2 linked regions of the Homo sapiens genome follow. The protein of the gene in region 1 interacts with the protein of each later gene in a biochemical or structural test. Each region holds a gene or a part of one and is shown in the gene's direction. Other genes may lie near its edges.

Region 1 (16,552 bases):
GCCGCCTGACACATGGTGCCTGTGTATGCCAGCGTCTAACCCAGGCAGGGACTACAACTGGGGGTCAAGTGAGGAGATGCGGGGTGACTAAGCCGTGCACAGCAGGGCTTGGCACCAGCTGCCACCATTGAGCGGTGCCCCTCCTCTGTGCCAGGCACCGTTGTGAGCCCTTAAGGGACGTGACAGTTCTGTCCCATCCCAAGTGACAAAAGAGGAGATGGCGGCCTGTGAGGTTATGCAGCTGCCAGGGGTCGGGATATGACCCACACAGTCTGTACCAGAGTGGCCCGAAGAACCCGTATGGTGGGTCTACATCAATGCTTCTGCCAGGCAGGAAAGCAGGGACACGAAACACACCATGTGTCACGCCTGCGACCACGTTTATGTTTGTTTTTAAGGTGGGATGGTGGTGATGGGACTGTGGTCTTCTGTATTTTCCAAGTGCACAGATGTCCCTTGGGTGATCAGAGTAACTTTTTAGCCAGAACTTGTTATTTGCACTGCCCTCCTCTGTCGGAAAATGATGCTGTGCTGGTCCTTCTCTTGAGGGCTGTGGGTCACAGGAGGAGATCCCCTGAAGGCTGGGAGGCATCCCTCCCCATGCTATGACCCTGGCATGGTGTGAGCCCTCACCCCCGTGTTTGGAGCACAGGTGCTTTCTCTGGTAGCGTTTTCTTTAAAGCAGGAACTTGGTTTGAGACAAACCTCTCGGATGACTGGGGTGGCTGGGCACGGTTGGGGAGGAGGTCCAAGAAGAGGATCCTTCAGAGCCCTGGGGTCTCAGGAGGACAACCTGAAAGCTGGTCCTACCACGTGCTGCCCGGGGTCCCCGGAGGTTGTGGGAGTTATTATTATTTAAGAAGTTAAAGCTTCAAGGTTCTGAATGCTTGGCTAGGATTCCATTGGTATTAAAAAGACGAAGCCCCAACCCCCAGTCATGGGACAGGATGGGCCGAGGCCTTTCCTCTGTCCGCCTGGCTTCGCTAGGTCCCTCCACCTAGGGTGAAGGCTCAGGCTTTTCCAGTCGGGCGCCAGGACCATGGGCTGCTTGGAAACGCATTCATCTCCTCAGCCTGGGCTAAGATGACACAGACACACAGCAGGCCCTGCTGAAGTCGGGGAGTGGGGGAGGGGCCTCCTCCAGGGCCAGCACTGGTCAGTTGGCGGCTCCAGCCCACAGCGCCCCTACTCCTTCTCCTGCCAGGAGCTGGGCTGAGGAAGCAGCCCCACGTGGCCAGGTCCCTGCCCAGCCCATGCTATGGCAGAGGGACAGAACTGCCGAACCCCTAGACAGGCCCTGCCGCATCCACTCCCATGGTTGGAGCACATGGCCATGACTGAGGCTGAGGAGGAATGGTCACAAAAAAGGTACAGCAGGGCCCTCCTCCTGGAGGCATTTTCTGGGAAGCCATGTGGGGGATGGCCAAGAGCTCTAAGACCGCTGAGATCGCTGCACCCGCAGCCGCACCTGTGGACAGTTCCCACGGTCACCCTTAGAGCAGCTCAACTGCTGAGAGTGAGGCCTGGAATCAACCCCGGGGTTGTAGAGTAGAACAGGGTTAGGTGAGCCATGATAGAACCTGATAGAATATTCTACAGCTGGCAGAAATAGTGAGTTAAAAGTAGCTAAAAACAGGCCAGTCGCAGGGGCTCACACCTGTAATCCCAGCACTTTGGGAGGCCAAAGCGCACAGATCCCGTGACCTCAGGAGTTCAAGACCAGCTTGGGCAATATGGCAAAGTCCCATCTCTAACAAAAATACAAAAACGTACCTGGGCATGGTGGTGCGCATCTGTGATCCCAGTGACTTGGGAAGCTGAGGTGGGAGAATCACTTGAACCCAGGAGGTGGAGGTTGCAGTGAACCAGGATCACACCACTGCACTCCAGTCTGGGGGACAGAGCCAGGCTCCATCTCAAAAAATAAAAATAAAAAGGCCGGGCACAGTGGCTCATGCCTGTAATCTTAGCACTTTGGGAGGCCGAAGTGGGTGGATCACCTGAGGTCAGGAGTTTGTGACCATCCTGGCCAACATAGTGAAACCCCATCTCTACTAAAAATACAAAAAATTAGTGGGGCATGATGGTGCGCGCCTGTAATCCCAGCTACTCGGGAGGCTGAGGCAGGAGAATCGCTTGAACCCAGCAGGCAGAGGTTCCATTGAGCCAAGATTGTGCCACTGCACTCCAGCCTGGGTGACAAGAGTGAAACTCTGTCTCAAGAAAACAAAAATGTATGTGAAAATGCATGTCCATGTGCAGTATGTATTTACATGTTAGTGATTATACATATAAAACACCTATTTTCAGGTATAGAAAAATATTGATAGGATACAAATTAATCCAAAGTGTTAAGAAAGTATCTCTGTGTGATGGGGATTCCATTGATTTGGTTTCTCCTTTTTGCTTATCTTTATCTCCTATTTTCTCCATGATGAACATGTATTAATTGTGTAGGGAAAATCAAACCACAGCAGGGTGAGCTGCCGCTGGCTGGAGAGCCGGGCGCCATCTGGCTGGGGCTGCGCCCCGTCCTGAAAAAACCAAACGTGCAAAGGGAACCCTCACCCAACGCAACAAACTATTGAGGATGATCTTTGTAAGAATACTGAATGTTTCACTAGGGTAACATTCTTTTTTTTTTTTTTTTTTTTTTGAGACAGAGTCTCGCTCTGTCTGTCGCCCAGGCTGGAGTGCAGTGGTGCCATCTCAGCTCACTGCAAGCTCTGCCTCCCGGGTTCATGCCATTCTCCTGCCTCAGCCTCCTGAGTAGGGGGGACTACAGGCGCCTGCCACCACGCCTGGCTAATTTTTTGTATTTTTATTAGAGACGGGGTTTCACCGTGTTAGCCAGGATGGTCTTGATCTCCTGACCTCATGATCCGCCCGCCTCGACCTCCCAAAGTGCTGGGATTACAGGCGTGAGCCACTGTGCCTGGCTCACTAGGGTAACATTCTTAATATCAAAGGAAATCATACAAGTCCATAAGACCACTAAAAAATTCCCAGTGGAAAATGGTTAGAGAAGCTACAAAAGATTCACAAAAGAATAAGTGAGACAGTTGTCACTACTATCACGAATTGTAAATTATAAAAAGATGCACATGGCTGGGTGCGGTGGCTCATACCTGTAATCCCAGCACTTTGGGAGGCCGAGGCGGGTGGATCTCCAGGTCAGGAGTTCAAAACTAGCCTGACCAATACACTGAAACCCCGTCTCTACTAAAAATACAAAAATTAGTCGGGTGTGGTGGCGGGCGCCTGTAGTCCCAGCTAGTCGGGAGGCTGAGACAGGAGAATTGCTTGAATCCAGGAGGCGGAGCTTGCAGTGAGCCGAGATTGTGCCACTGCACTCCTGCCTGGGCAAGAGAGTGAGACTCCGTCTAAAAAAAAAAAAAAAAAAAAAAAAAAAAGACACACATCACCACCTTCTCCTTAATGCAGGCTAATCTAGACCTAATACAGACCTAAGGTCGTGATGACATCCTCGGTGTCCTGCACGCTGCTCCCCTCCTGGGTTGGGCGCAGGCAGCGCAGCTCCCTCACACAGCACCTGGGGCAGGACCCAGAGCAGCTCTGCAGAGTGGCTTGGCAGCGTCTTGGGAGATTTGCCTGGGCTCATGGGTATCCCATGGCATCCTGCAGGTGACACTGGAAATGTCAACAGGGACACAGGTCCAGGTGTGTGAGATATTTCAAACAGCAACACCTACAGAAAGGAATGTCCAGTCCAGGGGAAATGACAAAACTTGCCCTGGCACATCCACCCCATGGGATGTGGAATAACCAGCAAAACGGAACGCTGCCTCAGTTTTAGCAACATGGGGAAATTCTCAGATATGTGATTGTGTGACAAATCAGGGTGTAAAGTTGAACACAGCATGACCTGGATTCAGGAATAAAACTCTCCCCTCTTGACTGTGGTTATCCTGAGCCCCAAGATTAAGAGGGACCTTGATGCATAAATTTTAACACTTCTTTCTTTCCCACAATAGAATATCATCACAATAAGCCAGGACATAACTTAAATATTAGAAAAGAAAGGAAAACACCCAGGCCCTAATACAGAAATCAGCCAAGGACATTCACAGACATCAGAACAGCAATTACCGCAACACGTGTCAACCAACACTCAACCTCAGTGCTCTTCGTGCAGGATGGATTTCTGGTTTTGTTAGGTTTTGTTTGTCTTTTTCTTTTTTTTTCTTTTGTTTTCTTGACAGGGTCTTGCTCTGTCAACCAGGCTGGAGTGCAGTGGTGCCATCATGGCTCACTGTAGGCCAGATCTCCTGGACTCAAACCATCCTCCTGCCTCAGCCTCTCAAAGTGCTGGGATTACAAGTGTGAACCACTGTGCTGGGTCCCTAAGGGTTTTAAAAAATTATTTATTTATTTAGAGACAAAGTCATGGCTGGGCACAGTGGCTCATGCCTGTAATCCCAGCACTTTGGGGGGCTGAGGCAGGCGGATCATGAAGTCAGGAGTTCCAGACCAGCCTGGCCAACATGGTGAAACCCTGTCTCTACTAAAACTGCAAAACTTAGCTGGGCACAGTGGCTCATACCTGTAATCCCAGCTACTCAGAAGGCTGAGGCAGGAGAATCACTTGAACCCAGGAGGCGGAGGTTGCAGTGAGCCAAGATTGCACCACTGCACTCCAGCCCGGACGACAGAGCAAGACTCCATCTCAAAAAAAAAAAAAAAAAAAGACAGAATCTGCCTCTGTCGTGCCCAGGCTGGAGTACAATGGTGCCATCTCAGCTCACTGCAACTTCTGTCTCCTGGGCTCAGGCAATCCTCCCTCTTCAGCCTCCCGAGTAGCTGGGACCACAGGCATGTACCACCACACCTGGCTAATTTTTGTATTTTTGTTAGAGATGCTGTTTTGCCATATTTCCCAGGCTGGTCTCAAACACCTGGGCTCAATCAATCCTCTCACCTCAGCCTCCCAAAGTGCTGGGATAACAGGTGTGAGCCACTGTGCCCGGCCTAATTGTTTTTTTGGGGGGGACAGAGTCTCACTCTATGGTCCAGGCTGGAGTGCTGTGGTGTGATCATAACTCACTGCAGCCTCAGTCACCTGGGTTCAAGCGATTCTCCTGCCTCAGCCTCCCAAGTAGCTGAACTAGAGGCACGCACCACCACGCACAGCTAATTTTTAAATTTTTTGTAGAGACAGGGATCTCACTTTGTTGCCCAGGCTGGTCTCGAACTCCTGGGCTCAAGCTATCCTCCCACCTCTGCCTCCCAAAGTGCTGGGATGACAGGCGTGAGCCACTGTCCTGGCCTGGCCCTTGACTTCTGTGGTGGAAGGTGGACTGGAGCCTCACCAAGTCTCACTCGAGTTGCGGAGAACAGACAGGAACAGGGACTTGCCTTCTGAGCAGTCTGTCTACCAGACACATGTCCTCCATCATACTCCGCAGTGCTAGGGTGGGCTATTCTTATCCCTGTTATGCAGATGAGGAAGTAGAAACCTAGAGAGATTGAAGCACTTGCCCAAGGCCAGGCAGCAGGTGAGAAGGTGAGAAGGCCATAGAAGCTTGCTTTCTCATTTCCCCTGCTGACTGCTGCATGGGGGGACAGGGCTATTGAGTACCCAGGAGTTATTTTGATCAAATGTGATAAGATGACAGACACAGAGACAACCGCCTTTGAAAGAGGAGTTTATTACTCACAGTTCCCAGGAGGAGGGGCACGTGGGGAAGCACCCAGGGCCAGTCAGGACAGGGAGGGGGTGAAGGGAAAGGGTGGGCAAGAGCCTTTATTGCCATTTTCCAGGCAAGGCAGAGGAGGCAAGCTGAGCAGAATTAGAACTGGGTCATTTCAGTGGGCTCTGGGCTTGGGGGTGGTATCTAGCTAGCTGGTACCTGGCCTTGGGGTGATTTAGGGCAGGGGGCTAGTGTTCAGGAATGCAGGAGCCTGATGAAAGGAGGCAGGTGGGACTCATGATGGTTGCTCTGCATATCAAAGGTATGCTCAGCCTGCACGGTGGCTCAAGCCTGGGATCTCAGTACTTTGGGAGGCTGGGGCCAAAGGATCTCTTGAGCCCAGCAGTTTGAGACGACAGTGAGCTATGATCATACCACTGCACTCCAGCCTGGGTGACAGAGTGAGACCCTGCCTCAAAAAAAAAAGAAAAAAAGAAAAAATAAAGTAAATAAGGCATACTCAGAGGCAAGTGGTCAGCTGTCTCTAGGAATTAGCTAACCCTGGGAGGGGAGTCCCTCTCTAGGTCCACGAGACCCCAAGATGTCAAAGCACCACAGATGAGAACACGATGGGGCTTGGCACGGTGGCTCACGCCTGTAATCCCAGCACTTTGGGAGGCCAAGGCAGATGGATCATTTGAGGTCAGGAATTCAAGACGAGCCTGGCCAACATGATGGAACCCTGACTCTACTAAAAATACAAAAATTAGCTGGGCGCAGTGGCAGGTGCCTGTAATCCTAGCTACTTGGGAGGCTGAGGCAGGAGAATTGCTTGAACCCGGGAGGTAGAGATTGCGGTACATCAAGATCGTGCCATTGCACTACAGCCTGGGCGACACAGCGAGACTCAGTCTCAAAAAAAACCCCCAAAAAACAGGCCAGGTGTGGTGGCTCATGCCTATAATCCCAGCACTTTGGGAGGTTGAGGTGGGCAGATCACGAGGTCAGGAGATCGAGGCCATCCTGGCCAACATGGTGAAACCCCATCTCTACTAAAAATACAAAAAATTAGCCGGGCATGGTGGCATGCACCTGTAATCCCAGCTAATCGGGAGGCTGAGGCAGGAGAATCGCTTGAACCTGGGAGGCAGAGGTTGCACTGAGTCGAGATGGCGCCGCTGCACTCCAGCCTGGGGGACAGAGCAAGACTGTGTCTCAAAAACAAAACAAAACAAAACAAAACAAAACAAACCCAAAAACAAAAGACACCATGAATGAAGAAAGCCTCCAGGAGGGGAAGTTTGCAGGTGCCTAGGCGTGTCCTTCAAAACTCTAACCCTGCTGGTCAGGTCATTTTTCTCAGGCCCTGAGAAAAGGAAATCCTTCCTGGTCTAAGTGTTACGAGCACGTTCAGTTCAGATTAAAGCAATTCTCTCATTTCAGTGCAACACCTACATTACTTTCCAGCTCTCTGGGGCCCCCATGAAGGAATGTTCCTGCCCCACACCCCCAGCCTGGGCCCCGCTCTGCTGCTGTGTGCTGGAGTCAGGTCTAGGGGCAAGCCCACAGCCTCTCCCTGTTTACAGCCAGAGCGGAGATCACTGCACGTTTCCAGCGTCCTCTTTGGCGCGGTGCGAGTGAGGGTCCTGCCTTGCAGGGCTGAATGAGGAGTACAGAGGACCCTGGGCACAGGAAGCTGGTGCTGGGTGCCCAGTGTGGGTGCTCTGAGGGCACTGGTGCCCCTTGGCCGCCCTTGCTTGACTCTTTGAGCTTGTCAGTCAGTCCTAAATGTTTCCAAGCTTCCTGGGGCGCTTGCAGCATGGGGCACCTAACCGGTCCCCAGGGCAGTTCTCCGCATTCTCCCTCTAACCTGGCTCCATTCTTTATGCCTTCACATCACGTGGGGAGCGTTACTCCCTGCCTCAGTTGGTTCACACTGCAATGGCAAACCACCACAGTCCAAGTGGCTTATAAACCACTATTCATTTCACAGGACGGTGCTGGCAGATGCCGTGTCTGGTGAGGGCCACTTCCTGGTTCATAGACAGTGCCCTCTTCCTGCATCCTCACATGGGGGAAGCAGCAGACAAGCTCCCTCCAGCCACGTTTTTTCTTTTTTCTTGTTTCTTTTTTCTTTGAGACAGGTTCTCAATCTGTCGCCCAGGCTGGAGTGGAGTGGTGTGATCTCAGCTCACTGCAGCCTCAACTTTCTGGGCTCAAGCAATCCTCCTACCTCAGCCTCCCAAGTAGCTGGGACTACAGACACATGCTACCACAACCGGCTAAGTTTTTGTAGTTTTTGTAGAGTCAGGGTTTTGCCATGTTGCTTAGGCTGGTCTCAAACTCCTGGACTCAAGCAATCCTCCCTCCTCAGCCTCCCAAAGTGCTGAGATCACAGATGTGAGCCACTGTGCCCAGCCAGCCACTTTTCTGAGGGCATTAATCCCGCTCATGAGGGAAGCAGCCCTCATGACCTCATCTCCCAAAGGCCCCACCTCTCTAAAACCATCGCCTTGGGGCAAGGACGTCAACATATGGACTTTGGGGGAACACACATGATATGATTTGGCTCTGTGTACCCACCCAGATCTCATCTTGAATTCCCACATATTGTGGAGGGACCTGGTGGGAGGGAATTGAATCATGGGGGCAGGTCTTTCCCGTGCTGTTCTTGTGATTGCGAATAAGTCTCACGAGATCTGACGGTTTTATAAGAGGGAGTTTCCCTGCAGAAGCTCTCTCTCTCCCTGCTGCCATCCACGTAAGACGTGACTTGCTCCTCCTTGCCTTCCTCCATGATTGTGAGGCCTCTGCAGCCACGTGGAACTACAGGTCCAATAAACCTCTTTTGTTTGTTAATCGCCCAGTCTCACGTATGTCTTTATCAGCAGTGTGAAAACAGACTGATACAATGCACATTCAGACCATAGCACCCCTCCTCTGCAGCCCATCTGAGCAAAGGCTTAGTTCTGGCAGCACGCACCTTGGGCCATTGCCCAGTAGAGCCTCACCCTTTTTTATATTTTATTTTATTTTATTTTATTTATTGTGAGATGGAGTTTCACTCTTGTCGTCCAGGCTGAAGTGCAATGACGCCATCTCGCCTCACCACAACTCCCGCCTCCCAGGTTCAAGCAATTCTCCTGCCTCAGCCTCCCGAGTAGCTGGAACTACAGGCGCCCACCATCACACCTGCTAATTTTTGTATTTTTTGGAAAGATGGGTTTCACCATGTTGGCCAGGACGGTCTTGATCTCTTGACCTCGTGATCTGCCCTCCTCAGCCTCCCAAAGTGCTGGGATTACAGTCCTGAGCCACCGAGCCTGGCTGAAACCACACCCTTTAAACCTCTTACCGTTGTGGGTGTGGTCTTCCCCACCCTCTGCTCCTCTGGCCAATCCTGTCCTGTACAGCCTGACTGTCCTGTACTGCCTGACTGTCCTGCACCGCTGTGGCCTGGGAGGCATGCTGCCCCTTGCACCTGCAGGCACCTCACAGGCTTTGGTGAGGGAGCACACGAAATAACCCCTCTAGTCTGTCAGGTGAGAGCAAGGATCCAGTGGCCACATGGCCTCAGATTGGATTCTGGCTTTGTTACCTACTGGCTATGAGATTTGGGGCTGTCACCCCTCACATCCTCAAGGGCTCCCTCCATAAAATGGAGACAACAGTGTCTGCAAGCTAGTGTTGCCATAAGGATGAAATGTCATCATGGACAGAGAGCATTTTGCATAGAGATCAATAATACATATTTGAAAAATCCCCAACATTTAGAAACAAAACAATACACTTCCTAATAACCCTTGGATCCGGGAGGAAATTAAGAGTGGAGACAATCTTGAGCTGAATGAAAATGAAAACACAGCACATTGAAATGTGCAGGATTCAGCTAAAGTGGTAATTACAGGGAGAATTATAGCAATAAAATGCCTATTTATAAAGGAAAAGAGATCTTAAATCAATGATTTCATCTTTCACCTTAAAAAACTAGGAAAAGGCCAGGCGCGATGGCTCACGCCCATAGTCCCAGCACTTTGGGAGGGCGAGACAGGTGGATCACGAGGTCAGGAGATCAAGACCATCCTGGCTAACACAGTGAAACCCTGTCTCTACTAAAAATACAAAAAATTAGCCAGGCATGGTGGTGGGCACCTGTAGTCCCAGCTACTTGGGAGGCTGAGGCAGGAGAATGGCATGAACCCGGGAGGTGGAGGTTACAGTGAGCCAAGATCGCACCACTGCATTCCAGCCTGGGTGACAGAGCGAGACTCCACCTCAAAAAACAAAACAAAACAAAAACTAGAAAAAGGGGCCGGGTGCATTGGCTCACGTGTAGAATCTCAACACTTTGGGAGACCAAGACAGGTGGATCACTTGAGGTCAGGAGTTTGGGACCAGCCTAGCCAACATGGTGAAACCCCATCTCTACTAAAAATACAAAAATTAGCTGGGCGTGGTGGCACATGCCTGTAATTCCAGCTACTTGGGAGGCTGAAGTGACAGAATCACTTGAACCTGGGAGGTGGAAGTTGCAGTGAGCTGAGATGGCACCACTGAACTCCAGCCTGGGTGTTCTCTATCTCAAAAAAAAAAAAGAACTAGAGAAAGGGCGGGGAGCAGTGGCTCATGCCTGTAATCCCAGCACTTTGGGAGGACAGGGCGGGGAGCAGTGGCTCATGCCTGTAATCCCAGCACTTTGGGAAGACAAGGCGGGTGGCTCACTTGAGCCCAGGAGTTCCAGACCAGCCTGGGCAAATGAGGCAAAAACCCATCTCTACAAAAAATATTATCTGGGTGTGGTGGCACATGCCTGTAGTTCCAGCTACTCGGGAGGCTGAGGTGGGAGGATCACCTGAGCCCAGGAGGTAGAGTCTGCAGTGAGGCTTGATTATGCTACTGCACTCCACCTTGGGTGACAGAATGAGACACTATCTCAATTTTTAAAAAATGAAGAAACTAGAAAAAGGGAACACATTGAACCAAATTAAGTGGAAAGAAGGATCTAACAAAAATGAGAGCAGAAATTAATGAAATAGGGCCATGCACGGTGGCTCATGCCTGTAATCCCAGCACTTTGGGAGGCTGAAGTGGGCGGATCACCTGAGGTCGGGAGTTCAAGACTGGCCTGACCAACATGGAGAAACCCCGTCTCTACTAAAAATACAAAATTAGCCAGGTGTGGTGGTGCATACCTGTAATCCCAGCTACTCGGGAGGCTGAGAGAGGAGAATCGCTTAAACCCAGGAGGCAGAGGTTGCAGTGAGCCGATATCTCACCACTGCACTCCAGCCTGGGCAACAGAGCAGAGACTCCGTCTCAAAAAAAAAAAAAAAAGAAAGAAAAAAAAGAGGGTGGGGTCTTCCGCATTTCCTTTTTTCTCTTTTTTTTTTTTGAGACAGAGTTTCACTCTTGTCACCCGTCACCCAGGCTGGAGTGCAATGGCGGGATCTCAGCTCACTGCAACCTCCACCTCTCAGGTTCAAGTGGTTCTCCTGTCTCAGACTCGCGAGTAGCTGGGATTACAGGCGCCCACCACCAAGCCTGGCTAATTTTTTTGTATTTTTAGTGGAGACGGGGTTTCGCCATGTTGGCCAGGCTGGTCTCGAACTCCTCACCTTACGTGATCCGCCTGCCTTGGCCTCCCAAAGTGCTGGGATTACAAGCGTGAGCCACTACGCCTGGTTACGCATTTCTTTTTAGGCTCATTCCTGGGTATGTCACCGGCCCTATGGCGATTGTGAACAGCACCTGCAGATATTTGAGGGCGTGCGCAGCCAGGGTTCCCGCTCTGGGCAGGGGGCACAGCGAGGTGACTCACGGGTAACCACAGGTGGCCACGAATGACTGCTAGAAAGTGGGAATTTTAGGGGAACAGAAAACGGAGAATAGCGGGGCGCACGGGGAGGCTCTGGAACCTGGGCGAGCGGAGCGGCGGACGCCGCAAATGCGGAGGGCGGGGCAGGGTGGCCCCTGGCGGGTGTCTCCACCTCTGCGGCCAGGCCCCCCAGCGCAGCTGCCCTGGCCCCGCCCACCACTCCCAGAGCCCGGGGTTGGGTCCCAGGTCGCCCTCAGGAGCCAAGGCCCCGCCCACCACGCTCGGCCCCCTCGCCTCAAGCCCCGCCCACAGTTCGGGTCCAGACCCAGGCTCCGCCCCCTTCCCCCGCCCACAGCTCCAGTTCCCTTCGCAGGCCGTCTCTCCACGGGAGGCCCCGCCCCCCACCCTCAGCCCCGCATCCGGCTGAGTCCTCACCCCAGGCCTCGCTCGCCGCTGGAGACCGCGCTCACTATCCGAGGAGGACCCTCCTCTGCCCCGCGTCCAGCTTTAGTCCCCGACTGCGTTCATCGCCAAGGGCCCGCCCACTGCCTTAGGTCGCGTCGCCAGCCTTGGGTCCCGTCGCCAGCCTTGGGTCCCGTCCCCGGCTGCACTCACCGCGAGGCCCCACCCTTAGCTCTAGTCCCCGGTGTCGCCCACCGACGAGGCCCCGCCCCAAACTCCAGTCCCGGGCTGCGCTCACCGCCGTGGCCCCGCCCCCAAGCGCCAGTCCTCGGCTGCGCTCACCGGTAGGCCCCGCTCGGGTTCCGCCGAAGCCCAGCCCCCGCAGGTCGCCCCTCCGACGCCGGCGCGCCGCAAGGGAGGCCAGCTCGCTCGCAGTGGGGAGGTCGCGGCTCCAGTCCTCGCGTCCCCGCCGTGGTCCCGGTGCCTGTCCCATCCCGCGGGCGCGGCCGTTGCGGGCGGCGCGGCCCGGGCGCGCGCGGCGAATCTGCGGCTGCGAATCGGCTGGAGCGGGGCCTCGCGAGAGCGGCGAGGCCTGGGCGGCTGGGCCTGGGCGGGCGGCGCGGGCTGCTCCGGAGGCTCGGGTGGCTTGAGAGTCTTGGGAGGCTCCGGGCGCTGCCCGCGCGGTCGCCGGCATGACGGGCCGCGTGTGCCGCGGTTGCGGCGGCACGGACATCGAGCTGGACGCGGCGCGCGGGGACGCGGTGTGCACCGCCTGCGGCTCAGTGCTGGAGGACAACATCATCGTGTCCGAGGTGCAGTTCGTGGAGAGCAGCGGCGGCGGCTCCTCGGCCGTGGGCCAGTTCGTGTCCCTGGACGGTGAGTCCCGCGGGCTGGCGCTGCGCGGATTTCTCGGTGCGGCTTAGGCGGGCTGGAGGCGGTGACGGCGCGGCCGGGACCAGCGCCTCGGTACCGCACGCTCTGTCGGGGCGCGCGGTTCTGCGCCGTCTGGGCGCGAGTGTGGATCCCCTTGGCGAGAATGTAGACCTTCTTCGCGCGCCTGTGGACCCCCGTGGCGTGCGTGGACTTCCTCGACACACGCGTGGGCCAGGGCAGCCAGCACAGGGAGGGTTGAAGAGAGCCTGGGGAGCCCAGAAGGCCCCTCAAGCTGCCCCTCACTGTCACTCTCTGTGCCTGCAGTTTTGTTTTCAGCAATGTCTGGTACTTAGAATCCGATTGCTGCTGCCCTTGGCCTTGGTGGTTACCGGGCGGATGCCCTAGGGCCACTCAGGCTGCTGCAGGCCTCGGAGGGGACGTTTCAGTGATGGGCAGTATTGCGGGCTGGGGATGGACCCCAGCCTGTGGAAGGAGCTGGACTGTGGCCAGTTTCAGGTGGTTGTGAATAGAGCTGCTAAAAGGATTCATTTGCAGCTCTCTGTGTGAACATACGTTTTCATTTCTCTGGGGAACTTAGCTGTATGTGTAACTCTATGGGAAACTGTCATGAACTGTTTTGTGATGTGGCTGTGCCATTATGCATTCTCACCAGTTGCCCCACATCTTCACCAGCACTTGGTGTTGTCGATGTTTTTATTTCGGTTGTTCTAACAGGTGTGTGGCATCTCATCATAGTGGTATTCTGTATTTCTCTACTGGCTAGTGATGTTCAACCTTATTAGGGTGCTTATTTGCCATGCCCGAATCCTCTTTGTTGAAATGTGTGCTCAAGTCTTATTTTTTTATTTATCTCGAGACAGGATCTCACTCTGTGGCCCAGGCTGGTGTGCAATGGCCCAGTCATGGCTCTCTGCAGCCTTGAACTCCTAGGCTCAGGCAATTCTCCTGCCTCAACCTCCTGAGTAGCTGAGACTACAGGTGCATGCCACCATGCTGTGATCATTTATTTTATTTTATTTTTAGTAGAGACAAGGTCTCTATGTTGCCCAGGCTGGTCTCAAACTCCTGGGCTCAAGTGATACTCCAGCCTTGGCCTCCCGAATTGCTGGGATTACAGCGTGAGCCACCACACCCTGACTCTCATTTTTTATTTGGGTTGTTTTCTTATTGTTGAGTTTTGGGAGTTCTTTGTGGATTGTAGTTACAAGCCCTTTGTTGTATATGTGATTTTCAAAGCAGAAGTTTTTTTTCTTTTGAGATGGAGTCTTGCTCTGTTGCCCAGGCTGGAGTGCAGTGGCTCGATCTCGGCTCACTGCAAGCTCTGCCTCCCAGGCTCACGCCATTCTCCTGCCTCAGCCTCCCGAGTAGCTGGGACTACAGGAGCCCACTACCATGCCCGGCTAATTTTTTTTGTATTTTTTAGTGGAGACGGGGTTTCACTGTGATAGCCAGGATGGTCTCGATCTCCTGACCTCGTGATCCGCCTACCTCGGCCTCCCAAAGTGCTGGGATTACAGGCGTGAGCCACTGCGCACGGCCTCAAAGCAGAAGTTTTAACTTTTTTTTTTTTTTTGAGACAGAATCTTGCTCTGTGGCCCAGGCTGGAGTGCAGTGGCACAATCTCGTTTCACTGCAACCTCTGCCTCCCAGGTTCAAGTGATTCTCGTGCCTCAGCCTCCCAAGTACCTGGGATTACAGGCGTGCGCCACCTCACTTGGCTAATTTTTGTATTTTTAGTAGAGACAGGGTTTCACCCTGTTCGTCAGGCTGGTCTTGAACACCTGACCTCAAGTGATCCGCCTGCCTCAGCCTCCCAAAGTGCTGGGATTACAGGCGCGAGCCACCGCACCTGGCCTAAATCTGTGGTCCATCTATGTTTTGTATAAGGTGTGCTTTGTAGGCTGAGGCTCATTGTTTATCTGGAGGTCCCCTTGTTTCAACACCGTTTGTTGAAAGACTGAAGGCCTTTGCTCCCTCGGCTGTGCTCACTGGGCCCCGTCCGTGCAGGTCTGTCTCTGGGCCTTGTGTCCTGCCCTGTTGATCAGGTGCCGTTTTCCTTTGTCAGCATCACACGCTTTTTTACTATACCTGTTATATTGTCCTGAAATCAGATATTGTGAGTCCCTCAACCTTTGTTCTTCCTTTTCAAAGTTGTTGTGGCTATTAATTTCCCTTTCTCTTTTTAATTTTAGAGTAAGTTTGTGCATCTCTGCAGGTCACATATTCTTACCTGAAATGCTTGGGACCAGAAGTGTTTTGGATACCAGAGTTTTCTGATTTTGGAATATCTGCATTATAATTACTGGTTAAGCATCCCTAATCGAAAAATCTGAAATCTGAGATGCTCCAGTGAGCATTTCCTTTGAGCATCGTGTTGATACTCAAAAAGTTTCATGTTTTGGAGCATTTATTTTTTATTTTATTTTTTTCTTGAGACGGAGTCTCGCTTTGCTGCCCATGCTGGAGTGCAGTGGCACTATCTCGGCTCACTGCAAGCTCCGCCTCCTGGCTTCACGCCATTCTCCTGCCTCAGCCTCCCAAGTAGCTGGGACTACAGGCGACCGCCACCACGCCCGGCTAATTTTTTGTATTTTTAGTAGAGACGGGGTTTCACCGTGTTAGCCGGGATGGTTTCGATCTCCTGACCTCGTGATCCACCTGCCTCAGCCTCCCAAAGTGCTGGGTTTACCAGCGTGAGCCACTGCACCGGGCCGTTTTGGAGCATTTATAATCTCAGATTTTTGGATTTGGGATGTTCAACCTGTACAAAAGTCCTGGTGGGGTTTTCATTGGAATTGCATTAAACCTCTTGATATATTTAGGGAGAGCTGACATTTTTTCTTTCTTTCTCTTTTTTTGAGACAGAGTCTCACCCTGTCACCCACGCTGAAGTGCAGTGGCGCGATCTGAGCTCACTGCACCCTCCGCCTCCCGAGTTCAAGTGATTCTGCTGCCTCAGCCTTCTGAGTAGCTGGGACTGCAGGCACACGCCACCACACCCAGCTAATTTTTGTATATTTTTTAGTAGAGACGGGGTTTCACCACATTGGCCAGGCTGGTCTCGAACTCCTGACCTCGTGATCCGCCCTCTTCGGCCTCCCAAAGTGCTGGGATTACAGGTGGGAGCCACTGTGCCCAGCTGACATTTTTTCTATGTTGAATCTTGTAGTCCATGGAACACAGTGTATGTTTGCATTCATTTAGATTTTCTTTGATATAGTCTGTCAGTGTTGGGTAGTTTTCAGCATACAGCTTCTGGACTTTTTTTTTGAGATGGAGTCTCGCTCTGTCACTCAGGCTGGAGTGCAGTGGTGCAACCTCGGCTCACTGCAACCTCTGCCTCTTGGGTTCAAGCGATTCTCGTGCCTCAGCCTCCCAAGTAGCTGTGATTACAGGAGCCCACCACCACGCCTGGCTAATTTTTGTATTTTTAGTAGAGACAGGGTTTCACCATGTTGGCCAGGCTGGTCTCGAACTCCTGACCTCAAGTGATCCCCCCCCACTTCAGCCTCTCAAAGTGCTGGAATTATAGGCATGAGCTGCCGTGCCTGGCCCTCTGGACATTTTTTAGATGTGTACCTAAGCTCTATTAGGAGTTATTATAAGTGGAATTTTTTTAATTTAGTTTTCAACTCTTCATTGCTTGTTTATATAAATATGGTTGATTTCTGTGTGTTGTCCTGTTTCCTATGGCTTTGCTAAACTTACTTGTTCTAAGAGGTTTTTTTTTTTTTTTCTTTTTTTTTGAGCTGGTGTCTTGCTCTTGTTGCCCAGGCTGGAGTGCAGTGGC
Region 2 (15,896 bases), on another chromosome or scaffold:
ACACCAAACAAAGTACAAAGCTGCTTTTGTAAGTGTGTAGATGTCAAGAGCAGAACATATCTATAATATTTAATGTGTGAACAGCTACTGTGACATGCAAAGGAAAGGACAGTGCAGAATTAAACCGTGTTGAAGACCAGTGGAAATTGTATAATTTAACTTGGATTTAGGCAGGAAGTGAAATATGGGAGGAGTAAAGAAAACTGAAGAATTTAAAGTTTTCCTGAAGACAGTAATAATGCAGACACAAACTGGTTTCATATGGTGAGAGCAGCCACAGCAGCAGCTTGACCTGGTATTCTACCTGAGTAGATGAAGCAGAAGATCAGCAAGTTTGGCAGAGTTTTGGTTTAAGAAAAACAAACCACTACTACCTAGCACAAGTTAAATTTACAAGTCTGCTCCTCAAAAATGAAAAAATGGAGGAAAGAGACTATAAAACCACTTTTAGCATATGAATTGCAGTTGGTACACATGTGTGTGTTAATAGGAAAGTCTCGAATTTGTGTTGTTTTTGAGATTTGTCATTTAAGGTACCAGTGCACACTTGATCATATTTCATTACTATCTCTAACACAGTCCTAACATCTCAAATTTAAAGACCAGTTGAAGATTAAGGGATTTTTATCCTTTGTTGAAAGTCATGTTGGGTTATTTGAAATTCAAATTTTAATTGTGCTGCCCATATATGAAAATGAGACTGCTGACTCGCTATCTATGGACATGCACTTTATGTTGGTTTCTTAGTAGTAAGAGTAACTTCATGATAACCCCAGTCTTCTTGCCTAATTTCTTTTTTGAGACTAGCTGGGGTTAGGATTAGAATGACTATGGAGCAGATATTTGTTCTTCTGGGAAAAGCTTTAACAGGCCAAAATAGGGATTGAACTTGTCCTTGGCCTTTATCAAAGCAAGCTAGCTACCCAGACGTAGTCAAATACTCTACAAAATAAACAAGTCTGCTTTAGGAATTGTCTGGGTACCTTCACTGTTACCAACTTAGCTGTAAAGATTATTTCAAAGCTCACTCTTCCATGATTTCTTCTGGCTTTCAATCCTATCTAAGTATCAAGGAAATTAACTTGTAAATATGGTAGTTGTTTACTAAGGATATGTACTGCTCTTGCAAGGAAATAATGTCCAAACAAAGCTTCACTTATTTTTTTTAATATAAGCAGATTTCACTGTTTATGGCGCTTATGTAATACATTTTATCTTTTTAAAAATTTGTCCGTGTAAAAGTCAGGATTCCTTTATATTTGTGAGCCTCCTTTTCTCCTTTCCTAAGGATGTAATCTACAGTTTTCAGATCTGCAGGGTAGTCTTGATTGGCTAAAAACAAATCAATTTTCTTCTTGGCATAAAGTGTTTCATTATTATAGGGGTGTTCATTTTAAATAGTTTAAAAACAATTGCAGCACATTCTAAGCATAAGAGAAAGTTATTGACAACAGGTACCTTCCTAATCTCCCAAGACGTACTTACTCATTTGTGAAGTATTAAAGTAAGAGGTAACTCAAGCAGAATGCTGGCTATGAATGTAGATATTGAAGCTATTCATAAACACTGGAAATAGAATTTTAAGCTTTTAGCCTTCAGTGGAATGCACATATTGGACATGTGCATGTGAACACCTTTTTCAGTAGCACTCACGGATTTCCATTCGATTGTATAGAATGAATACAAGTGTTTTAGTGGAATTTGCTACTTAATTTTTAATCTTGCGATGTCCGTGATTATTACATGCTTACTAGTGTTGTGGACATTGAAGACAAGGTCATTCGTAGGTGTCAGATTACAATGGAGAACAAAAATCGTTTTCCCCCCACCCACATCCAAACACCATTCTCGAGGGAGCATTTCTTGCAAAACACCTTACATTTCATTTTCTATCTTTGCACTTTTTCTTAAGTACAGAAAAGTTGTCTTTAAGACCTAGTTTGAACTTCATGCAGTAAGAGGAACAAGGATAAACAATGTTGGGAGTTCACATTGTTCAGAGCATAAGGAAAAGTACCAAAACCCAAATTTTCTTGAATATTTCAGATGTTTTTAAAAACTCACTTCTAGTCTGAAACATTTGAATTGTTTTAACTCTGAGCAGCTGACAAAGTTGAGGTTTTTTTGTTTTGTTTTGTTTTGTTTTGTTTTTTTGAGACAGAGTCTTACTTGGTTGCCCAGGATGAAGTGCAATGGAGCGATCTCGGCTCACTGCAACCTCTGCCTCCTGGGTTCAAGCAATTCTCCTGTCTCAGCCTCTCGAGTAGCTGGGATTACAGGCGCATGCCACCACACCTGGCTAGTTTTTATATTTTTAGTAGAGATGGGGACTTCACCGTGTTGGCCAGGCTGGTCTTGAACTCCTGACCTCAAGTGATGTGCCTGCCTCGGCCTCCGAAAATGCTGGGATTACAGGCGTGAGCCACCATGTCCAGCCAAAGTTGAGGTTTATTAGTACTATTAGAAACAAAATTGAGCAAGTTAAGTTAAAAGTTTGCTGACTTTGTATCAACACTATAGAAGATGAGCCACCTTGTTAATTTGGAATATTTGCTCTGAAAAGAACATGTTAGTTACACCTTAATGGTGTTAATGGAGGTGGGGATTGAGAAAAGTGTTCACATTAGTGTTGGAATGTAGGTAATTGTACAGTTTATAAGACCTTTAGCACCAGGAAATAAAATATGTGTGTGTACACACACAGTTTTTAAAAACGATTGGAATTCATCCAAACCTTAAGATTAGGAAACTGATTGGCTGTAAGTGTTGCCTCAAGTAATGTGTCCCCCGCCCCATAACATGTCTTTTCTGTGCCAAGTATCCTCTCCTAGTGTCAGTGTCTCAAATTATATTTATGAAGGGTTATCACATAATATGCTTTGTATTTAACTACCTGCTTCCCAGGCGTCCATGACATGAAATGGGTGAAGCATCAGCCATGACTTTCGGTCAGTTCCCAAAATACCCAAATGATAGGGAGGTAAAGATTGCAAAATTCCTCTTAAAAGGCCATTTTTACAGCTTGCTAAAATACAGTGGCACCTTATGGTTGTTAATATTTTTTCTTTTAAAGATGGAGAATGTTTTTATTCTTCCCCTTTTCTCCTTTGTTCTTTTGCGAACAAAAAAAATTATAATCTGCCTTATTTGATTTTTTTTTTAAGTTTTACCTTACAGGCTTCCCTGTCACATGTTTTACCATATTAAGTACATAGAAGCCATGTTTGCAGGGCACTTTTATTCTCCTAGTCTTATAAGACTATGCTAATTGTTACTTTCTGAAGTATTCTGTACCTTAGTATGCAAGATTGTTAAGGCACATGTTAAAGTGTCAGGTGTGTTTTTTTCCCTTTAATTCTTCAGTATGTTTATATTCAATAACAGTATTGTAATTCATTGAGTTAACTAGTAAATTGTGTGCTTTTGAAAAAACATGAAAAATGTAAATTGACAGCATACTTCATTTGGAAAAAAGTAAAAGATCCGAGGAACTAGTATGTCACTTATTTATTTTTATTTTATTTTATTTTTTACTTTTTGAGACAGGGTCTTGCTCTGTCACCCAGGCTGGAGTGCAGTGGCATGGTCACAGCTCACTGCAGCCTTGACTTCCTGGGCTCAGGTGATTCTCCCACCTCAGCCTTCCAAGTAGCTGGGACTACAGGCATGCACCACATTGCCTGGCTAATTTTTTGTGGAGATGGGGTTTCGCCATGTTGTCCAGGCTGTTCTTGAACTCCTGGGCTCAGGCAATTTGCCTGCCTCATTCTCCCAAAGTGCTGGGATTATAGGCGTGAGCCACTGCGCCCAGCCTTACTTATTTTTAAATCAGATTTTTTAATCAACTAAAACAGCTATGAGTTAAGTACCTGCCCTGCAAAAATTTTTAGAAAAAGTTTTAGGATTATGAAATTAAGAATTATTTTCCTTAACTGGAACAGTTCTAAAATTTATCTGATACTTCTCTAACAAGTGAGTGATCTCATGTAACCCCAGTTTGTATCTTAAAGGCTGCAGCATAGAATTGAGCTGTATAACAGTGTTAGAACTGTCAAGTGATAATCACAGAACAGTTTGTATCGGTTTTATAATTCTCATGTCTTGATCAGATCTGAAGGAAATAGGCATACCCTCCAACATTCTAAAAATTATTTATTTTTATTAGGATTTGTTTATTAAAGTTCCACGAGCTGCTTTATGGTCAGTTGGGCTGAGTAGTAGATATCTTAAAGACATGCAGTGAAAGTGAACCCTGTCATATCATGGTGCCTCTTTCAAGGTTCCTCTGTAAGTTCCTCATCTTGCAGAATTATTTCAATACCAAGGTATGGTTGAACCAGCTGTCCAGCCTTAACTCTATTTAGTGCCCCATTACTAATGTTCTTTTAACTGGTTTGTATGTGTTTTAACTGTCCAGTGTTTGGATTTTACCTCTTGATAGCTCCATTTGTCCCTGGTGCTGCTTTTAAGGATGTAGGGCCATGTGATCAGGTATCAAGTTGAGTAGGTACGCAGTTGGCCTGGTGATGTATCTGTGCCTGTTTTATCTTCTCCCAGGAAGAGCTGCTTTGGTATAGTTGTTTACTTGGATTCATACAAAGAACAGGGCAGCAATCTTGGAAAGCTTTCTGAAGCTTATAAGAACCTGAAGGGGTTTGGAGGGGGAACAGTAACAAAGGCTGCCTTTATGTCTTTGGTCACAAAGCACATAGATGTATGTTCTGTAAAGACTAAAGTGATTGTTATACCAGGGCTTCCTGACCTTCGGGAGAGACTCAAAAAAGCAGAGAGGAGCACAAAGTGAAGTTAATTTGGTTGGCTTGCTTTATCTGGTTTCTCATTTTCTTTCAATTTAAACCTGAACATAACACCCTTCTCCGATACCTATCCAGCAGACTCCTGGTTGGGAAGCCCTGTATTAAATTTTGAGAATGTACACAGTTTTCTTTTGTACAGTGCTTTACAACTGCTAAAAGTTAACTTGTTTAAAGCAAAACAAGACCTTGAAAGGTCAATCATATTAAAGCTGGTTTGATTATTAATAGTTATCTTTTAGGAAGAAGCTTTTTTCCCTATGTAAGATGTCATACTGCAGATTTAAAATATAGACTATCAATAAAATGCATGAAGTGATCATTTGTGCTTGATCATCTCTCCTTGGGTTTTTCTTTAAAAAGGGGAATCTGCTATAAAGGTTCTGTTGCTTCAAACCAATGTCAAATAGACTTGATTTTTAGAGTCATGGAATTACAGTGCAACCTTGATTTTTATTCCCCTCACTGCTATGAGTGTGGGCAGGTACTGGTTTATATGTTATAACTTCCGTTTTATCTGTGTTGTGTAGTTGAATGGCTTAATCGTTGAGTGGTAAAATAAAAGATTATATTCCAATACAAGAATCCTGGAAAGATTTATGTGAATGACATTTTAAGTAGGCGCATCTTTGCTGTTTCTTGTATTCTCGCCATTGCTCTGACCACTCCCTTGCTTGCCCTGTATATATACAAAAACTTGTAGGTGTGCACGTGTGCTTGTACTTCTGTCTTCCATTTCTATCTTAATCTCTTAAACATATTGCTTAAGCCACTAAGATGTCCTTGTTTCAAGTAAATCGTCACATTGTGACACCTGGTGTATTGTATTATAGTTTCATTTCCTCTGGTGCCTGCAGAGCTATCTGTCATTGGCATCATAACTCGGTTTCTCAGGATAGTTTTGATGTAGTCAGCTCTTCAACTCATGACCTTCCCAAGGTTTTAAGTTTAGTGTCATTCATGATTTTATTATTTGAAACTCAATACCACCATCAAAAAGTTAGTGCTCTAGACAATGAAGCCAAAGCACAGGCATCTTAGGTCAGTGAAAAGGATCCAGACATAAATTAGCCAGGTGTGGTGGTACACAGCTGTGGTCCCAGCTACTTGGGAGGCTGAGGTGGTAGAATCACTTGAGCCCGGGAGGTCAAGGCTGCAGTGAGCCATGATCATGCTGATGCACTCCAGCCTGGGTTACAGAGCAAAACCTTGTCTCAAAAAAACCCCCAGATACCTAGAAGAAAGGATTCGATAAATCTGGGTGGATTATAAACTGAACTCTTAATGGTCATTTTAAAAAATAAGAAAGCAAGGGTCCAGTTTCTTTGAGGTCTTTGAATTTAGACAAGATTTAACTATAAGGCCTTGCATGGATTACTAACTATAATTAAATTAGCTAAACTTTTCTGGTTGCTGTCAGGCATTGTATTAAGTATTCTATATAAATTATTTAATCATCACAGTGACTGTGAGGTGAAAGTATACCACCCATTTTATAGGTAATGCAGCTGAGATACAGATGTTTGGTAATTTGCCCAGGTCACATAGTAAGTAGCAGATTATTTGCAATCATCTTTGATGCAGTCATCTTCCTTGTGCTCTTAATCCCACTACTATATGACTTCTAATTTGTTTCTTAGTATTTATCCCAAGCCCTAGACTAGATTGCTTATGAGGTGTGATTTCTTAGGAAAAACATCAGTTTTGGCTGGTTTGCCAAGAAAAAAAAAGGCCAAATTGGTTTTTGTTTATTTTTTTGTTTGTTTGAGATGGATTCTCGCCCTGTCGCCCAGGCTGGAGTGCAATGGTGCGATCTTGGCTCACTGCAACCTCTGCCTCTGGGTTCAAACGATTCTCCTGCCTCAGCCTCCCGAGTAGCTGGGATTACAGGCGCCCGCCACCACGCCCAGCTAATTTTTCTATTTTTAGTAGAGACAGGGTTTCACCATGTTGGCCAGGCTGGTCTTGAACCCCTGATCCCATGATCTGCCCGTCTCGGCCTCCCACAGTGGTGGTATTACAGGCGTGAGCCACCACGCCCGGCCGCAAATTGTTTTTTGTTTTTTTGTTTTTTGGAGGATTAATGGTAATATACTGTAAATTCAGTAAAGCACTGGGCATTACCAGATACACCTTAGCACTATGAATAACATGAACTATCATTTTAGCAGTTTAAGTGTACCTTGTAATCAGCCCTAGGGCAAACGGTATCAAGGTGTTTTATTTCCAGAAGTCTCAAAATAGACTGGAATAAAAATTTGGTGAATTCATCAACACAGACAATGGGTCCACGTCTTGCAGCTACAGCTGCTGCAGCTACTCCTGCTGTCCGCACCGTTCCACAGTATAAATATGCTGCGGGAGTTTGCAATCCTCAGCAACATCTTAATGCACAGCCACAAGTTACAGTGCAACAGCCTGCTATTCATGTACAAGGTCAGGAACCTTTGACTGTTTCCATGTTGGCATCTGCCCCTCAAGAGCAAAAGCAAATGTTGGGTGAATGGCTGTTTCCTCTTATTCAAGCCATGCACCCTACTCTTGCCGGTAAAATCACTGGCGTGTTGTTGGAGATTGATAATTCAGAACTTCTTCATATGCTCAAGTCTCCAGAGTCACTCCATTCTAAGGTTGATGAAGCTGTAGCTGTACTACAAGCCCACCAAGCTAAAGAGACTGCCCAGAAAGCAGTTAACAGTGCCACCGGTGTTCCAACTGTTTAAAATTGATCAGGGACCACGAAAAGAAACTTGTGCTTCACCAAAGAAAAATATCTAAACATCGAAAAACTTAAATATGGAAAAAAATATCAAAATATAAAAGAAGGAAACTGAACCGTATGTACCGAGCAAATGCCAGGTCTAGCAAACATAATGCTAGTCCTAGATTAATTGATTGAAAAACAAAAAACACAAAAAAAATAGTAAAATATAGAAACAAATTAGTGTTTTATAGACCCTGGGAAAAAGAATTTTCAGCAAAGTACAAAAATATAAAACATTCCTTTCTTTAATTTTGTAATTCTTTACTGTGGAATAGCTCAAAATGTCACTTCTGTTTTAAGTAACAGAATTAATAACTGAGCAAGGAAACGTAATTTGGATTATAAAATTCTTGCTTTAATAAAAATTCCTCTTTAACAGTGAAAACAAAAACAAAAATTGGGGAATTGTTAAATGGTCATCTCAGCCCCTTATTACGTGTGCTCTTGGCCCCAATTATGACAATTTGAAATATGAAATGACTAGAAAGATTCAAATTGCAGCTTTTTAAAAACTATGCCCTGCCGGGTGCAGTGGCTCACATCTGTAATCCCATCACTTTGGGAGGCCGAGGCAGGCAGACCACGAGGTCAAGAGATCGAGACCATCCTGGCCAGCATGGTGAAACCCCGCCTCTACTAAAAATACAAAAAGTAGCTGGATGTGGTGGCATGCGCCTGTAGTCCCAGCTACTCGGGAGGCTGAAGCAGGAAAATCGCTTGAACCTGGGAGGCGGAGGTTGCAGTGAGCCGAGATAGCGCCACTGCACTCCAGCCTGGTGACAGAGTGAGACTCCGTCTCAAACAAAAAATATATATATGTGTGTATATATATATATATGTATACGTGTGTGTGTATACACGTCTGTATATATACGTGTGTGTATATGTATATATATGCCAGCCAGCTTATTGGTATGCAAGAAAATGCACTTTAAGTTGCCTTGGGCAGCCATCAGCATTCCAAGAACTTTATTGCTGAGAAGATATTTGGAACTTGTTTAAATAGCTTTTAGAAACAACTTTATGAACCACTGCGAAAAGCAACCCTGTTTGATTTGTTCACACGCGGTAGGGTATGCCTGTAATCCCAGCTACTTGGGAGGCTGAGGCAGGAGAATCGCTTGAACCCAGGAGGCGGAGGTTGCAATGAGCTGAGATCATGCCACAGCACCCCAGCCTGGGAAACAGAGCAAGACTCTGTCTCAAAAACAAAAAATAGATAAAATAGTACCAAAACCTTAAGAAATGTACATACTGTAATTATCCATCTCCATTCAAATACGTTGTAACTGCTAGATCTAGTAGGTATTTGAGGAGTAAAAGTTCATGGGTGAATAAGGGCTCATCTGAATCTCATTTGTTTCCTCAGGAGATAAATGTGTATTCTGCTCCTACTATTAATACATCCTTGGCATTCTGCTGGTCTGTGGTTTCTCTTCCCTGTGTCTTAGGTAGGGTGGGGACCTGAAGTCTAAAATATCGCTGAGTTTCTCAGTGGACAGTGTTGGTGACTGTGGTGTACCTACTTTTTAAAATTCACAATTTGTCTTCTGTATGCACCAAATGCTCTAGAATAGCACTGTCCAGTAGAAATATAATGCATCACCACATATAATGTTAAATTTTCTAGCAGCCACATTACAAAAGGTAATGTGTAAAGATACTAATTTTAATAATGTTTTCATTTAACCCAGTAAATATTTAAACATGTAATCAATATAAAAATTTTTAGTGGGATATTTACATTTTTTTCATACTGAGTTTTCAAATTCTGGTGAGTATTTTACACCTATAATACATTTCAATTTGGACAAGGCACATTCCAAATGCTTAATAACCACAAGTGGCTAGTGACTACCATATTGAACAGTGCAGCTCTAGAACAATATGGAGGAATGTGATTAGGTAGGATGCAAATGGGGTTGACTTTTAAAAGTTCGCTTATGAATGTGCATAGGCACAACTTATCTGCTCAACTACACCACGCCAGAACTAAAGCCTCATTCTTTTAATTGTGCATCAAAGCTGTCCAAGCTTACAAAACTACCACCTTTCTCCTTCCCTTAAAAAAAATTATATTTTTTTGAGACAGAGTCTCACTCTTGCCCAGGCTGGCATGCAATGGTGTGATCTTGGCTCACTGCAACCTCCACCTCCTGGATTCAAGCAATCCTCCTGCTTCAGCCTCCCTAGTAGCTGGGACTACAGGCGTGTGCCACCACACTGGGCTAATTTTTGTATTTTTAGTAGAGACAGGGTGTCACCATGTTGGCCAGGCTGGACTCGGATTCCTGACTTCACGTAATCAACCCACCTTGGCTTCCTAAAGTTCTGGGATTACAGGCGTGAGCCACTGTGCCGGGTCCCCTTTTGCGGTTAAAAGAATACACTCCCAGCCTGGCGTGGTGGATCATGCCTGTAATCCCAGTACTTTGGGAGGCCGAGGCGGGTAGATCGTCTGAGGTCAGGAGTTTGAGACCAGCCTGGCCAGCATGGTGAAAATTCGTCTCTACTAAAGATACAAAAAAAAAAAAAAAAAATTAGCCGGGTGTGGTGGCGTGCACCTGTAATCCCAACTACTCGGGAAGCTGAGGCAGGAGAATTGCTTGAACCTGGGAGGCGGAGGGTACAGCAAGCGGAGACTGCGCCACTGTCCTCAAGCCTGGGCAACAGAGTGAGACTCCATCTCAAAAAAATAAATAAATACATACATACATACACTCCATACCAAAGTTTGAAATCTATTAAGAATTAGCAAAAGCGAAAGAACTTGGCTGGCTGAGGATCCTGTGATTAGAAGTTAGGAAAGCCCACCTCAACTGCAGCGTTATATAGCAGCCGATAAATAGCAGTTATATTTATTTATTGCAGGAATGAGCACCCAAACTTTTACATAGAGCTTCTCTTAGTTCAGTTCATAATATATGTTAAAATAATACAAATAAATAACTTCCAAGCAGTTCATCTGAAATAGCTGTATTTGAATATTCCTGGCATTTGTTAGGAACAGCTAACCTGGGTTTACCATCTGTTTCCACTTTGTAGTTAAGTATTAAGTGATAGCATATGTTTAAGTGAGTTTCAAGTTAGTTTTCTGGGGTGGAAGGAGAAAAGTTGACAATATGAGAATAAAGGCTACCAGATCAGAACGAAAGCAAGTATTTTCCAACACCAAGTCTCTAATGTCATTTCTGAAAGTGTGTTTTGTTTTGTTTTGTTTGGCAACATGGAGTGAAATATTAACAGTCCTCTGAAGAAAGAGCCTTTGGAGTTGAGGTTTTGGAGAAAGCTGATTCGTTTGACTTGGTTTGTACTTTCTGTGTGAGTGTAACATAACACTTTCTGTGGCCTTTTTAAGAATCTGAAAACCAGCTGGGCATGGTGGCTCATACCTATAATCCCAGCAATTTGGGAGGTCGAAGCAGGAGGGTCACTTGAGGCCAGGAGTTTGAGACCATCCTGGACAACATAGTGAGACCCTATCTCTATGTCAAACAAACAAAATAATCTGAAAACCTACTTGGTAGTAGAGGACAGATGTTGGTTTCTAGCGTGGGTGACTCCAACCTATCTGTAGTACATGAATCCAGCTGCTAACTTGGAAGATGCCAGAGAAGCACATCACTCAGCCTTTCTTTTTTCTTTTTATTTCTTTTTTTAATAATCTTGGGTGTAACCCCATCTAGATTGAAGGCAAGAATTCAGGAAAATTCATTCATTGTTTTGCCTTGGCCCTCCCCTTTCCTGGAAGAAAGAAAATAATGGAACAGTGTCTGTTGGCACGAAGGTACAAGATTGTTCCTAAAACAAGAGACCAACTCAGCAAGCAACTAAGCCCAAATTCTGCCCAATCGCTCTGATGGAAAAGAAACCTTCCCCTAATAATGAAGCTATCTTTTTTTTGCCTTGCTGCAGTAGGCACTGAGAAGTTATCTTCTTCAGCATCTGAATTAATCCCCTTTCCCCACTTTTGGGGACCAGAAGCATCTATATATTTAAACAGGAAAATCAGTCTAATCTGCTAAATAGAAATTACATTCCAAGCTTCATTTTAGTATAAGTGCTGTTTAATAGCCCTTGTATAGACATGGGCCCTGACTGAACCCTTTCTCTGTCTTTTAAAGACAGGTCAAAACCACCTGCAGAGAAAAAAAAGCTGGAGAGGACATTTTGTTCTTTGCTTCTATCCCACCCCAAGGTGTTCCCTTCAGTATTGTTATTGGTATGTTTGATTTTGTTTTGTTTTTTTTTTTTTTTTTTTGAGAGAGTCTCACTCTGTTGCCCAGGCTGGAGTGCAGTTTTGCGATCTTGGCTCACTGCAACCTCCACCTCTTGGGTTCAAGCGATTCTCATGCCTCAGCCTCCCAAATCACTGGGATTACAGGCCCACACCACCACATCAGGGTAATTTTTGTATTTTTAGTAGAGACGGGGTTTTGTCATGTTGGCCAGGCTGGTCTCGAACTCCTGACATCAGGTGATCCACCGGCCTCAGCCTCCCAAAGTGCTGGGATTACAGGCATGAGCCACCGCACCTTGCCGGTATGTTTGATTTTGAATACCTTATAGGTTAACTGCCCAGCATATATAAACTAGACCTGGCTTAGGCCTTATTTCCTGTTCAAAAATACCAGCTTATAAACCAAAGCCTAGAAATGAGTGGGCTAGGTTCCTGACTCTGACGTCTTTGTGGATGACTCAAATATCTACCTATAAGTGTTCCAAAGAGGTACCATGAGACTCACAAGAAAGTATACTGCAATTTATACCACCCACCCTCTCCAGTCACCACCACTCTACTACACACTCTTTGCTCCCACTGAAAGGTTAACATGAACTGCCAGTGTGGCCTTGAAAGGGAGGGGGAGATAGAGAGATGGTTACAGATTGATGAGTAGGTCATATACCAAAATATGTTGAATACTTACTAGCTGCCTGGCCTTTTTACATTTGTCCTCTTAATATGTTATTCATAACAATTTGGGGGCAATTGGATATTTGCATTTTATAACAGAATCAGAGGTTAAGTGACATGCTCCGGGTCCCACTGCCAGTATTGATCATTCAAGAAAATATTTTAGCTGGGCACAGTGGCTCATGCCTGTAATGGCAACACTTTGGGGGGCGAAAGTGGGAAAATTGCTTGACGCCAGGAGTTCAAGACCATCCTATGCCACATAGTGAGAGCCTGTCTTTACAAAAAAAAATACTAGGAATCTATGTCTCAAGCACTGTTCCAAGTACAAGGGGTACTGTGGTCAACAAGACCAAGACCCCTGCCATCATGGAGGTTACATTCTTTCTTTGTTTTTGTTTGTTTGTTTGTTTGTTTGTTTTTTGAGGCGGAGTCTCGCTCTGTCGCCCAGGCTGGAGTGCAATGGCGCTATCTCGGCTCACTGCAAGCTCCGCCTCCTGGGTTCACGCCATTCTCCTGCCTCAGCCTCCCGAGTAGCTGGGACTACAGGTGCCCGCCACCACACCTGGCTAATTTTTTGTATTTTTAGTAGAGACGGGGTTTCACTGTGTTAGCCAGGATGGTCTCGATCTCCTGACCTTGTGATCTGCCCACCTGAGCCTCCCAAAGCACTGGGATTACAGGCGTGAGCCATCACGCCCGGCAGAAGGTTACGTTCTAATAGGGATAGGCAGATAATATTTTTGTAAATACAAATTCAGATACTGCTTTAATGCTGGGAAGCAAAGTAGATGGGGTGATGTGATTGTGACTGAGATGTGATAGGGTGGTTGGAGAAGACCTGAGGAGGTGATCACAAGCTGAGACCTGAATGAATAGATGGAGGCAGAACCTTCCAACTCCAGGGAATGGACTCAGCTCATTATCTGGAAGGAGGAAAAGGGGCAGTGTTGAACTGGGGAAGCAGTACAAGTTAAGGCAGGGCCAGTTCATAAGGGTTGTATAGTCCAAGGAAGGGAGATAGAATTTCATTCTGAGATGAGAAGCTGTTGGAGAGTCTTAATGGTAGGAGTGAAGTGCTCTTACTTAAATACTACTAAGTGGCAAAATCAGGGCTAGAAGACAGATCTGACTAGGGCCACTGCATGACACCACAGCAGAAGACTTTCCCATACCTATCCTTTCCTTCCCCAGGTGGAAGTGCAGGGAAGCTGAGTACCCAGTACCCTGGAGACAGCTCTGCCTTGCTGTAGGCTTTTGACTTCTCTTTCCAGGTTTCCTTCCTTTCCTAAGAAACTCAGCTTGTGAGATTCATATAAACAGTGATGTGGCTCTTTGTGTTATTTTAGTCTAATCTGGTTTGAATGACCTTTTTTAAAAAAAAAATTAAGACAGGGTCTTGCCCTTTTGCCCAGGCTGCTCTCAAACTCCTGAGCTCAAGCAATCCTTCCACCTTGGCATCCCAAAGTGCTAGGATTACAGGCGTGAGCCACCACAGCCGACCTGAATTACCTTTTTCTGCCATCGCTGAGAAAATTAGCAGCTAGGACCCAATATCACAAATGAGACAAAACAAGCTTCTCCCTGATAACTGGGCCAGCATTGTTGTTTTGTTTCGCTAATAACTGTAGGGATAAGGGTTGCCCAGATAATGAAGAAAAGGGACAGCTGAGTTCTTAATTTTTTAAAGAGCTGATTACACAGATCCTTTTCATTAGATGCCACTTGGTGATTTCTTTACTTGTTAGTGATTTTACTGATGGGTAACCTAAATTCAACAAGTAAATTTAACATATATTTTGGAACAGCTAATATGCCCAGTCACCCAATCCAGCTGCCTAGATCCAGGCACGTCTACATTATAAGTCATCCTGAGACAATTGGTGGCAGGCAAATGGGAGACTGGATTAGCTGTTTCCAGTTATTGTGGGGATATGGGGTCCCAATCTTGGTGTCCAGGTTCTTAGTTCTGGGTTTCAGACATAGGTGCACAAGTTCTGGGGCAGCTGTGGGAGCTAAAGGAAAGACAATGACTAACTACAGCATAGAAGGCCAAGCTACATGGAAATTAGCTCCTTTTCTGCTTGTTTTGATAGCATACATTGTTTCTCTATTCTAGATAATTAGGTCCATCTTACAGTCCTACTTCATCTCTCTTTCATGCCACTAATTGTTGGGGTGAATCTGATGGTGATTTCATAGCCACATTCCCTCTGGATCCCAGCAAAGTCTAAGGATTTTTAGGGCTGCAGGTGAGTGTCCATGGAGCCTGACTCATCTGCAGAGGTGTCTTCTCAGCCTAAACAATAAGTTTTGGGAAGAGGCCCTAGTTCAATCGATGTGAAAACAGCTACTGGTTTTAACCTGGCCTCTTGAGTTGCTGTGATATGGGCTTTAGTCCTATTTAGGACACTCAGGAAAGTTAACTCCTGGGGGCTTCCCTGCTCAACCCCCCTCAAACTTCCCTCTATCTTTGTTCCTTCAAACAATCTATTCACCTGGAGATCCAACTGAATTATTAGAATGTGTCTGGATAAGGACACATGGCCCCAGGAACTTGTCTAAGAGGCAGTATAAGGGTCCAAGACCTTTACAGAAATGAGCAATAATCTATTCAGCAACTGGTCCATGGAGAGTTGAAATGGGGACCTAAATTTGTAGTGAAAAAGAATAAAGGTTTAAGAGCCAGTCAGGCTTAGATTCATAGTCCTTTTACAAGCTGTATCATTTTAGATAACACACTTACCTTCTCTGAGTCTCAGTTACTCCCAGTTCTGCAAAGTGGGAGTAATGATGCCTACTTTGTTGGGATGCTTAGAGATCACATATGTAAATTTCCTAACACTTTAATGGTAGAGACATTTTATTGAACTATAATTAATAAGGTAGAAAATTAGTACTACCCAGCATGGGAGGAGGTGGTTGGGCCAACCTCCAGTGGCTGTGAGGTTGTGATTTTCAGACATTTTTCAAAGACGAGTGTATAAACTGGGGCACCAGCTTCAATAAAGATGAAAACAAGCTCTACACAGTAGCTCACACCTGTAATTCCAGTGCTTCAGAGGAGGCCAAGGAAGAAGGATCACTTGAGGCCAGGAGTTCAAGACTAGCCTGGGCAGCATAGAAAGACCTTGTCTCTACAAAAAAATAAATAGCCCGGTGTGGTTGCACATCACATGTCTGTAATCCCAGCTACCTGGGAGGCTGAGGCAGAGGATCACTTGAGCCTAGAAGTTTGAGGCTGTAGTAAACTATGATCACACCACTGTACTCCAGCCTGGGCAACAAAGCAAGACCCTATCTCTTAAAAAAAAAAAAAAAAGATGAATACATTGGCCAATGATCTTTGGATACCCAAGAAATTCTACCAGGTTTGTGTGAAGATGACAGGCAAGGAGACAGA

What was found.
Region 2: the proteins of BRF1 (region 1) and RLIM form a complex in vitro, tested with the Homo sapiens proteins (one study listed by BioGRID).

What each region holds. Positions count from the first base shown.
Region 1 is NC_000014.9:105,296,638-105,313,189, reverse strand, and holds the start of BRF1 (transcription factor IIIB 90 kDa subunit), read left to right. Parts: upstream 1-12,188; 5' UTR 12,189-12,560; coding exon 12,561-12,744; intron 12,745-16,552.
Region 2 is NC_000023.11:74,574,729-74,590,624, reverse strand, and holds the end of RLIM (E3 ubiquitin-protein ligase RLIM), read left to right. Parts: 3' UTR 1-7,649; downstream 7,650-15,896. UniProt on the Homo sapiens protein: E3 ubiquitin-protein ligase.